Linked DNA regions of Homo sapiens: region 2 is linked to region 1. Evidence: fine-mapped expression QTL. A gene starts in region 1. The other region holds a variant in brackets. All regions are shown on one strand. Distances are between the middles of the regions.

What was found. PIP is the estimated chance that this variant, and not a neighbour inherited with it, causes the effect. A credible set is the group of variants that fine-mapping cannot tell apart.
Region 2: its variant is the best candidate, but not a certain one, in a credible set for the expression of SLC1A5 in whole blood (TOPMed, PIP 0.71).

What each region holds. Positions count from the first base shown.
Region 1 is chr19:46,786,079-46,791,374 of GRCh38, reverse strand. SLC1A5 (solute carrier family 1 member 5) reads left to right here and starts at 2,781. Exons shown (of 8, transcript NM_005628.3): 1 at 2,781-3,975. The coding sequence starts at 3,410. RefSeq lists silencers at 2,464-2,623, 3,594-3,643, 3,654-3,703 and enhancers at 2,569-2,863, 2,512-3,113, 4,920-5,296.
Region 2 is chr19:46,814,102-46,819,469 of GRCh38, reverse strand. No RefSeq gene overlaps it. Among named protein-coding and RNA genes, the nearest start is that of SNAR-E, 14 kb to the left of the region's middle. The variant C/T (reference allele first, on the strand shown) is at 2,118.

The sequences.
Region 1 (5,296 bases):
GCTGGGATTACAGGCATGAGACACTGTGCCTGGCCTATTTTCATGTTTTTGTATTTTTAGTAGAGATGGGGTTTCACCATGTTGGCCAGGCTGGTCTTGAACTCCTGACCTCAAGTGATCCACCTGCCTTGGCCTCCCATAGTGATGGGATTACAGGCGTGAGCCACCGCTCCCAGCCTAAATCTTTTTTCCCTTTAGACTGAGTCTTGCTCTGTCACCTAAGCTGGAGTGCAGTGGTGAGATTACAGCTCACTGTAGCCTTGACCTCCTGGCTCAAGCGATCCTCCCGCCTCACCCTCCTAAGTAGCTGGGACTATTGGCGCATACCACCACACTCAGCTTATTTTTTAATTTTTTTGTAGAGACGGAGTCTCGCCATGTTGCCCAGGCTGGTCTCAAATTCCTGGGCTCAAGTGAGCCTCCCACCTTGGCCTCCCAAAGTGCTGGGATTAAGGGTGTAAGCCACTGTGAAATTTTTTTTTTTTTTTTTTTTGAGACGGAGTCTCGCTCTGTCGCCCAGGCTGGAGTGCAGTGGCGTGATCTCGGCTCACTGCAAGCTCCGCCTCCCGGGTTCACACCATTCTCCTGCCTCAGCCTCCCGAGTAGCTGGGACTACAGGCGCCCGCCATCATGCCTGGCTGATTTTTTGTATTTTTAGTAGAGACGGGGTTTCACCGTGTTAGCCAGGATGGTCTCGATCTCCTGACCTTGTGATCCACCCGCCTCGGCCTCCCAAAGTGCTGGGATTACAGGCGTGAGCCACCATGCCCGGCCGAAAAATTTTTTAAAATATTTATTTATTTATTTTGAGACGGAGTCTCACTCTGTCACTAGGCTGGAGTGCAGAGGTGTGATCTTGGCTCACTGCAACCTCCACCTCCCGGGTTCAAGCGATTCTCCTGCCTCAGCCTCCTGAGTAGCTGGGACTACAAGTGCATGCCACCATGCCCAACTAATTTTTGTATTTTTAGTAGAGACAGAGTTTCACCATATTGGCCAGGATGGTCTCGATCTCCTGACCTCATGATCTGCCCACTCTGGCCTCCCAAAGTGCTGAGATTACAGACATGAGCCACCATGCCTGGCCTATTTTCATGTTTTTAAAGATAAGGTCTCACTATGTTGCCCCGGATGGAGTCTAGTGGCTAAATGTGGGCACGATCATAGCTCACTGCAGCCTTGAACTCCTGGCCTCAAGGGATCCTCCTGCTTTAGCCTCCCAAATACCTGGGACTACAGGTGCATGCCACTGAATCCAGCTTGTTCTTCAGTAATAATAACAATAACAGCAATCGCAGCAGTAGTATTTGACTTTCTTCTGAAGGGCATTTTTGTTAGAAACAAAAGAAGAGAGAAAGAACAAAAAATTTTAAAGCACAAATAAATAACTTTTTTTTTTTTGAGGTGGAGTCTCACTCTGTCACCCAGGCTGGAGTGCAGTGGTGAGATCTCGGCTCTTCGCAACCTCTGCCTCCTGGATTCAAGCAATTCTTCTGCCTCAGCCTCCTGAGTAGCTGGGATTACAGGCATGTGCCACCACACCCAGCTAATTTTTGCATTTTCAGCAGAGACAGGGTTTTGCCATGTTGGCCAGGCTCGTCTGGAACTCCTGACCTCAAGTGATCTGCCCGCATCAACTCCCAAAGTGGTGGGATAACAGGCGTGAGCCACTGCGCCCGGCCGTATTATCTCATTTGAACCCTTGCAACACTCAAGGCGGTATGACTTATTATTATTCCCATTTACACATATGAAGACTGAGCCTCATAGAGGTTGTAAATTACCTGAGGCCTCACAGCTGCTGTAGGAGGAAGCTTCTGACATTACCACTACAATCTTTGAGCAAGCATGAAAGCCTGAAATGTCACAGAACAGGCTAGAGATGGGAAAGGAATGAGGATTTCAACACTGTCAGGTGGAGTAAGGAATCATAATTCATTGTTAACCTCCCAAACGGCCACTAACAGAGAATTTGGGGAGGCAGCAGAGTGGGTGCGGTTAGGGGCTTGGGAGGTGGGCATGCACGTGTCATCCTCTCTAGGTGTGGCCTCAAGGTGAATGACTTCCTCTGCCTCTGGGGTTCAAGCGATTCTCCTGCCTCAGGCTTCCAGTAGCTGGGATTACAGGCACGTGCCACCACACCAGGTAATTTTTGTATTTTTAGTAGAGACGGGTTTCACCATGTTGGCCAGGCTGGTCTCGACCTCCTGACCTCAAGTGATCCGCCCGCTTCACCTCCCAAAGTGGTGGGATTACAGGCTTGAGCCACGGCTCCCTAAATAAATACATCAATTTTATTTAAATCTTACAGCAATCATATGAGACAAAAGCTTTTAACACCTGCACTTTATATTCGAGGAATTAAAGTTCTCAGAGGCGACTAAAGACCAAACTCAGGGCTGAGGAGTTCCAAAGCTGAGTTGAGTTGCAAATGAATCACCGAGGACCACCGGAGCTTTCTAGCGACCCTCGCACCAGGGAACGAACCCCTGTGGTTTAAGGGCTCCAACCCACAACCCAGTTCCTTTGGCGGGAAACAGCACCCTCCCAAGGCCCCGCCCCTTCCTGGCCCCGCCCCGTCGTCTCTGGGCCCGGCTCCTGGAGATGGGTATTATTAATCTGCCTTCTATGGGGGACCTGGCCCATCTCGGGTATCAGCCCCGCCCCTACTCGTCCAGTCTCCGAACGCTCTGCAGCCAATCGGCGCCCGAGGGTCGGTCCCCGCCTTCTCAAGCCCCGCCCCCTACCCTTATCCCTGGCAGCTTCCGCTAAACGGGCTCAGAGCCACGCGGCACGCCCGGGAGGCTTTCTCTGGCTGGTAACCGCTACTCCCGGACACCAGACCACCGCCTTCCGTACACAGGGGCCCGCATCCCACCCTCCCGGACCTAAGAGCCTGGGTCCCCTGTTTCCGGAGGTCCGCTTCCCGGCCCCCAGATTCTGGCATCCCAGCCCTCAGTGTCCAAGACCCAGGCAGCCCGGGTCCCCGCCTCCCGGATCCAGGCGTCCGGGATCTGCGCCACCAGAACCTAGCCTCCTGCAGACCTCCGCCATCTGGGGGCACTCAACCTCCTGGAGCCAAGGGCCCCACGTCCCACCCAGAGAAACTCTCGTATTCCCAGCTCCTAGGGCCAAGGAACCCGGGCGCTCCGAACTCCCAGCTTTCGGACATCTGGCACACGGGGCAGAGCAGAGAAGCCTCAGCGCCCAGCCTGGGGAATTTAAACACTCCAGCTTCCAAGAGCCAAGGAACTTCAGTGCTGTGAACTCACAACTCTAAGGAGCCCTCCAAAGTTCCAGTCTCCAGGTGCTGTTACTCAACTCAGTCCTAGGAACGTCGGGTCCTGGGAAGGAGCCCAAGCGCTCCCAGCCAGCTTCCAGGCGCTAAGAAACCCCGGTGCTTCCCATCATGGTGGCCGATCCTCCTCGAGACTCCAAGGGGCTCGCAGCGGCGGAGCCCACCGCCAACGGGGGCCTGGCGCTGGCCTCCATCGAGGACCAAGGCGCGGCAGCAGGCGGCTACTGCGGTTCCCGGGACCAGGTGCGCCGCTGCCTTCGAGCCAACCTGCTTGTGCTGCTGACAGTGGTGGCCGTGGTGGCCGGCGTGGCGCTGGGACTGGGGGTGTCGGGGGCCGGGGGTGCGCTGGCGTTGGGCCCGGAGCGCTTGAGCGCCTTCGTCTTCCCGGGCGAGCTGCTGCTGCGTCTGCTGCGGATGATCATCTTGCCGCTGGTGGTGTGCAGCTTGATCGGCGGCGCCGCCAGCCTGGACCCCGGCGCGCTCGGCCGTCTGGGCGCCTGGGCGCTGCTCTTTTTCCTGGTCACCACGCTGCTGGCGTCGGCGCTCGGAGTGGGCTTGGCGCTGGCTCTGCAGCCGGGCGCCGCCTCCGCCGCCATCAACGCCTCCGTGGGAGCCGCGGGCAGTGCCGAAAATGCCCCCAGCAAGGAGGTGCTCGATTCGTTCCTGGATCTTGCGAGGTCAGCTCCCGCTCCCCCGGGAGGTGGGGAAGAGTGTTACGGATGGCGGGAGTGGTCACGTGGACAGGACGGGGCTTTGGGGCCCCTGGAGCAGAGACTTCCCTCTAGAGTCTTAGGAAAACTCGACAGGATATTGAGGGGAGGCTCCAGCCCTCGGGAGTGTGAGTCTAGTCTCCTGGGGAAGGGGTTTCTAAATCTGGGGGCCTGGGTACATAAGTGGGGTCTTATAGAGGGAGAAGAAAGTGATTTGGGGAGACATAGGAGGGTCTGCCTAGGGGAGAAAGACACTGAGGGGAGGGGACCCCAGGAGGAACTTTTGCGGGGGGAATCTTTGCGTGGTCAAGGGCCCCAAGATGGGGCTTCTAGATATAATTTGGGGCCAGGGTTGGAGAGTTTGGGTAAGGAGCCCCTGGAGGATCTGAGATCTGAGTAACTCCCACCAGGCCCTCTTCCCAGCCCTGGGGCACCCCCACACCACGTGTCACTCGGACATAACCAGGCTCTGTTTTTGGCCTCCGCTTCCCGCCCATTTCAGCTGGGGTCTGGCCGCTTCCCCTTTATCTTTTAGATCAGCCCTGCCACCCCTGCCTTTCCCTCCCGTTTCCTCCTCTGTCTGGGCCACCCCCTAGCAGGCAGCCCAGAAGAGGACCAGTTAGAAAGGGGAGCAGATTCTTTTCCTTCTCCTGGCCTCTGCCCCGCGCCCCCAAGAATGGCCTCCCCCACTTTGAGGAGGGCGGGGGGCAGAGGCCCCCTTGCGCTTGCCTTTAGGGCTTGCTCATTCAGTGTCTCCACGTTGGGGACTTCCTGGAAGTTGGGGGAAGGAAATGATGAGTCACGGAACAGGGTTCTCCAGCCTCTGGGGCGTCAGTGCAGGCTGAGATGCGAGACTGGGGCAGGCTTGGTGTCCCGAGTTGAAGCCTGGGAGCACCTTCTGGCTGGGGGAGATTAGCTGGGTCCTGGCCCAGCCTGGGCCTGGGTGGTACAGGCGGACCTTCAGGCAGGCACACCCACTCCGAGGCTGTTTATGAGCACAGGCCTCCCCTGCGTGCCAAAACAGCTGTAGCTCACACTTGGCCTGCCACACAGGCTTATAACCAAATGACATACAGCTGGACACATTCACGCAGACACTCAGCTGAGGCTGTAGCATCTCGACAAACACATGGCCAGATACCAGCGGTCATACACACGCTCACTGTGTACTAAGACCCCTGTAGCACAGCCATTCAGTGATGCCACCAGCCACGCCAACATCTAAACACAGGCTCAAGAGCACACAATACACACTCACATACACACCTATGTGGTCACACACCAATAA
Region 2 (5,368 bases), 28 kb before region 1:
TAATTTTAAAAAATTTTTTGTAGAGACTCTTCCTATGTTGCCCAGGCTGGTCTCCAACTCCTGGGCTCAAGCGATCTTCCTGCCTCGGCCTCCCAAAGTGCTGGGATTACAGGCATAAACCATTGCCCCAGGCCCCCAAAATGGGTTTTACAGGGCTAATATCAAGGTGTTGGCTGGGCTGCATCCCTTCTGGAGACTCTAGGGCTTCTCCTGGAGGCTCTCTTGCCCTGTCCAGCTTCAGGAAGCTGTCCACATTCCTCAGCTCAAGGCCCTCCTTGCATCACTCTAACTGAGGCAGGAGAATAGGGTCTGGAGCCAGAGAGCCTAAGGCCAATTCATGATGACTGGATATCAGAGGCTACTCCCCTTTCAAACCCTCCTTTTTCTGCATGGCTGTTGAAAAATGAAAGTACCTCTGAGTGGTCCCCTCCTGTAACCAATCAGACTGGTCCTGAGCCTACTCTTCATTCTGATTGGCCCCCTCCTGCAACCAATCAGACTGGCTGCGGGCCTATGCATCATTCTAATTGGTCCTCTCCCACAACCAATCAGACTGGTTACAGGCCTACTCTTCATTCGAATTGGTCCTCTCCTACAACCAATCAGACTGGTCACAGGCCAATGGGAAACTTCCAGAGGGTATTCAAATCCCCAAAAATTCTGTAACGGACACTTTTCAGCTGCTAGCTTGAGTCCACTCCCACCCTGTGAAGTGTGCTTTCCTTTAAAATAGATCTCTGCTTTTGCTGCCTTGCTTTGTGCGTTTCCTCTGCCTCCCGGGTTCAAGCAATTCTCTGCCTCAGCCTCCTGAGTAGCTGGGATTACAAGCACGTGCCACCACACCCAGCTAATTTATATATTTTTAGTAGAGACGGGGTTTCACCATCTTGGCCAGGCTTGTCTTGAACTCCTGACCTTGCGATCCACCCGCCTCGGCCTCCCAAAGTGCTGGGATTACAAGCGTGAGCCACCGCACCTGGCTGAGTATTGCAATTCTACATGAGATTTGGGTTAGGACACACACCCAAATCATATCACGGGGATTTGCTGTTTCCCAGGTTGGTCTCAAACCCCTGGGCTCAAGGCATCCTCCCGCCTCAGCCTCTCAAAGTGCTGGAATTACAGGCATCAGCCACTGTGCCCGGCTGAACTATATTCTTTCTTTTTTTTGAGAAAGAGTCTTAGTCTGTCACCCAGGCTGGAGTACAATAGTGTGATCTCAACTCACTGCAACCTCTGCCTCCCTGTTTCAAGCGATTCTCATGCCTCAGTCTCCCAAGTAGCTGGGATTACAGGTGTGTGCCACCATGTCCAGCTAATTTTTTGTATTTTTTTTTTTTAGTGGACGTGAGGTCTCACTATGTTGGCCAGGCTGGTCGCAAACCCCTGGCCTCAAGTGATTTGAAAGCCTCCGCCTCCCAAAGTGCTGGGATTAGAGGCATAAGCCACTGTGTCCAGCCTTATACACTCTTTCTTTCTTTTTTTTTTTTCTGTCACCCAGGCTGGAGTGGAGTGGTGTGATCTCTACTCACAGCAACCTCTGTCTCCTGGATTCAAGTGATTCTCGTGCCTCAGAGTAGCTGGGACTATAGGCACGCACCACCACAAGCAGCTAATTTTTATATTTTTAGTAGAGATGGGGTTTCGCCATGATGGCCAGGCTAGTCTCGAACTCCTGGCCTCAAGTGATCCGCCCGCCTCAGCCTCTCAGAGTGCCTTATACTCTTTCTTTCTTTCTTTTTTTTTTTTTTTGAGACGGAATCTCACTCTTGTAGCCCAGGCTGGAGTGCAATGGCGTGATCTCGGCTCACTGCAACCTCCACCTTCCAGGTTCAAGCAATTCTCCTGCCTCAGCCTCCTGAGTTGCTGAGATTACAGGTGCCTGCCACCACACCTGGCTAATATTTTGTAATTTTTTTTTTTGTAGAGACAGGGCTTCACCATGTTAGCCAGGATGGTCTCGATCTCCTGACCTCGTGATCCGCCCGCCTCGGCCTCCCAAAGTACTTGGATTACAGGTGTGAGCCACCGCGCCTGGCTGCCATATACTCTTTCTCAAGACCTCTTCTCTTGAGCCTAGGGATGGTTCCCCTCTTGCTTACTCAACGACAACAATC[C/T]AGCCACTTTCCTCTCTTGCTTCTCTTCTGGAATCTAGAAATCCAGATCATTCCCATCAGCACATGAACCAGCTGTTTGATCTTCTCTGCTCTTCTGACCTTTCTATCAAAAGAATTGACTTTTAGCTGGGCATGGTGGCTCATACCCATAATCTCAGCACTTTGGGAGGCTGAGGTGGGAGGATCACTTGAGCTCAGCAGTTCGAGGCTGGATTGAGCTACAACGGTGCCTCCACTCCAGCCTGGGTGACATAGTGAGATCCTGTTTCTACAAAACATTTTTTTCTATTTTGAGACAGAGTCTCGTGATGTCACCCAGGCTGGAGTGCAGTGGCGTGATCTTGGCTCACTGCAGCCTCCGCCTCCTGGGTTAAAGCGATTCTTCTGCCTCAACCTCCCTAGTAGCTGAGACTCCAGGTGCCTGCCACCACACCCGGCTAATTATTGTATTTTTAGTAGAGATGGAGTTTCACCATGTTGGCCATGCTGGTCTTGAACTCCTGACCTCAGGTGATCCGTCCGCCTCAGCGTCCCAAAGTGCTGGGATTACAGGCTTGAGCCACCATACCCAGCCTACAAAACATTTTTAAAAATAATAAACCAGGCATGGTAGCACACGCCTGTAGTGAGCCATGATGTCACCACAGCACTCCAGTCTGGGTGACAGAGTGAGACCCTGTCTCAAAAAAAAAAAAAAAAAAAAAATTAACCCTGTACCTGGCCGTAATGAATCAACAATTGGAAGCTGTGTTATTATAAAGACGGGTGAACATATGGGCCCCTTTGCTGGTCCCCATCTGGCCTGGCTCTCCTGTTCTCCACCCTGCACACTCATGCCTGGGAACCTGCGTCTCCTCTCAGCCTCCCCAACGGCGGCCCAACCCACATGGCGTTTGATCTGCCCACTTCAGAGCCTTCACCTCCGGCCTGCAGCCCATCAGAGGCGGCTGGATCCCGGCCTCCTCCCCACATGGGCCTTTGAGGATGGGATGAAAGAGGCTAGGCTGAAACCAGTGTGAATGGCCAAACGGGGAACTCAGGAATCCCTGGTGCTACGCCCAGGAACAGAGGTGCGCGGCGGGGAGGCAGAGCAAGGGATGCTTCTTGGGGCTTGCTGGCAGTGCCAGAATGACCTGGGCATTTACCGACCACCTCCTGTGTGCTCAGGCCTGTGCTAGGTGATGCTGAGGACATAGTGGTGACTGGCCTGGCCGTCAGAGGGCTCACAGGCCAGCGGAGCAGATAGGCCAGTGCCCCAAGAGCAACAACCTAGTGGGAACAGGGCTGGGATGGGAAAACCTAGTTGATGCAGTCAAGAAGGGCTTCCTGGAAGAGGAGGTTCTTAAGTTCTTCACAGAGTCTATGATGCCCATCTCAACCTACCTCTTCAGCCACATCTGATGACACTTCCCCACAATCCCTTGAATCCAGCCACCCTGTTCCTTCTAATTCTTTTCATTTTTGTTTATTTATTTATTTTGAGACAGAATCTCGCTCTGTCGCCCAGGCTGGAGTGCAGTGGCGTGATCTCGGCTCACTACAACCTCCACCTCCTGGGTTCAAGCAATTCTTTTGCCTCAGCCTCCCAAGTAGTTGGGATTACAGGCGCCCGCCAACATGCCCAGCTAATTTTTGTATTTTTAGTAGAGACGGGGTTCCACTATGTTGGCCAGGCTGGTCTTGAACTCCCGACCTCAGATGATCCACCCGCCTTGGCCTCCCAAAGTGCTGGGATTACAGGTGTGAGCCATGGCCCCTGGTCTCCATCTGATTCCTGACCACTTCAAGTTCATTCTCACGTCTGGTTCATTGCACTTGCTATTTCTTTTGCCAGCTTCTCTCTTCTCAGTCCCTCATCAGGCAGGTTCCTTATCCTCACTCAGATTGCAGACGAATTCTTCTTGCAGCACTGAGCTCTTTCAAAAAATTGTCTTGGCCAGGTGCAGTGGCTCATGCCTGTAATCTCAGCACTGTGGGAGGCTGAAGCAGGAGGATCCCTTGAGCCCAGGAGTTTAAGACCAGTCTGGGCAACATAGTGAGACCTCATCTCTACAAAAAAATCAAAAAAATTAGCTGGGCATGGTGGTGCACGCCTGTAGTCCCAGCTACTCAGGAGGCTGAGTTGAGAGGATTGTTTGAGCCCAGGAGTTCAAGGCTGCAGTGAGCTATGATCACACTGCTGCACTCCAGCCTGGGTGATGGGGTGAGACTCTGTCTCTAAAAATAAATTTTAAAATAGTTCTCTTATGTCAAGTGCTGGGGCTCACACCTGTAAACACTAGGATTTTGGGAGGCTGAGGTGGGAGGATCACTTGAGCCCAGGAATTTGAGTCCAGCCTGAGGAAAATAGCGAGACCTCATCTCCAAAAACAAATAGGCCAGGTACGGTGGCTTAAGCCTGTAATCCTAGCAGTTTGGGAGGCCGAGGTGGGCAGATCACCTGAGGTCAGGAGTTCGAGACCAGCCTGGCCAACATGGTGAAATCCTGTCTCTACTAAAAACAGAAAAAACTAGCCGGGTGTGGTGGTGCACACCTGCAATCCCAACTACTCAGGGGACTGAGGCAGGAGAATCACTTGAAACTGGGAGGTGGAGGTTGCAGTGAGCTGAGATTGTGCCACTGCACTCTAGCTTGGGCGACAGAGTGAGACTCTGTTTCAAAAATAAATAAATAAATAAATAAGAAAGATAAGCTTTTGGCTGGGCACTGTGTCTCATGTCTGTAATCCCAGACTTTGGGTGGCTGAGGCAGGAGGATCACTTGAGGCCAGGAGTTCGAGACCAGCCTCGCCAACACAGGGAAACCCTGTCTCTACCAAAAAATATAAAAATTAGCCAGGCGTGGTGGCGGGCGCCTGTAATCCCAGCTACTCAGGAGGCTGAGGCAAAAGAATCACTTGAACCCAGGAGGCAGAGGTTGCAGTGAGTGGAGATCACGCCCTGCACTCCAGCCTGGGTGACAGAATGAGACCCTGTCTCAAAAATAAATAAATGAATGAATGAATAAATAAATAAATAAATAAATAAGCAAGCTTTTAAATCAAGCCCATGAACACTGTAGAAAAAAAAAAAAAAGAAAAGAAAACATTCCCTTGTTTGCAGTCTCTGTTGACTCCTTTATTTCCTGCCTTCTCCACTACAATGTAGCCTCTCCTAACCCTGTGTTCCCCAATCCCTGGCAGGGTGCCCGACACAGGGTTGACGTCCGGCAAATATTTGTTAGATGAAGGAAGGATCCAAGATCTCCAGGA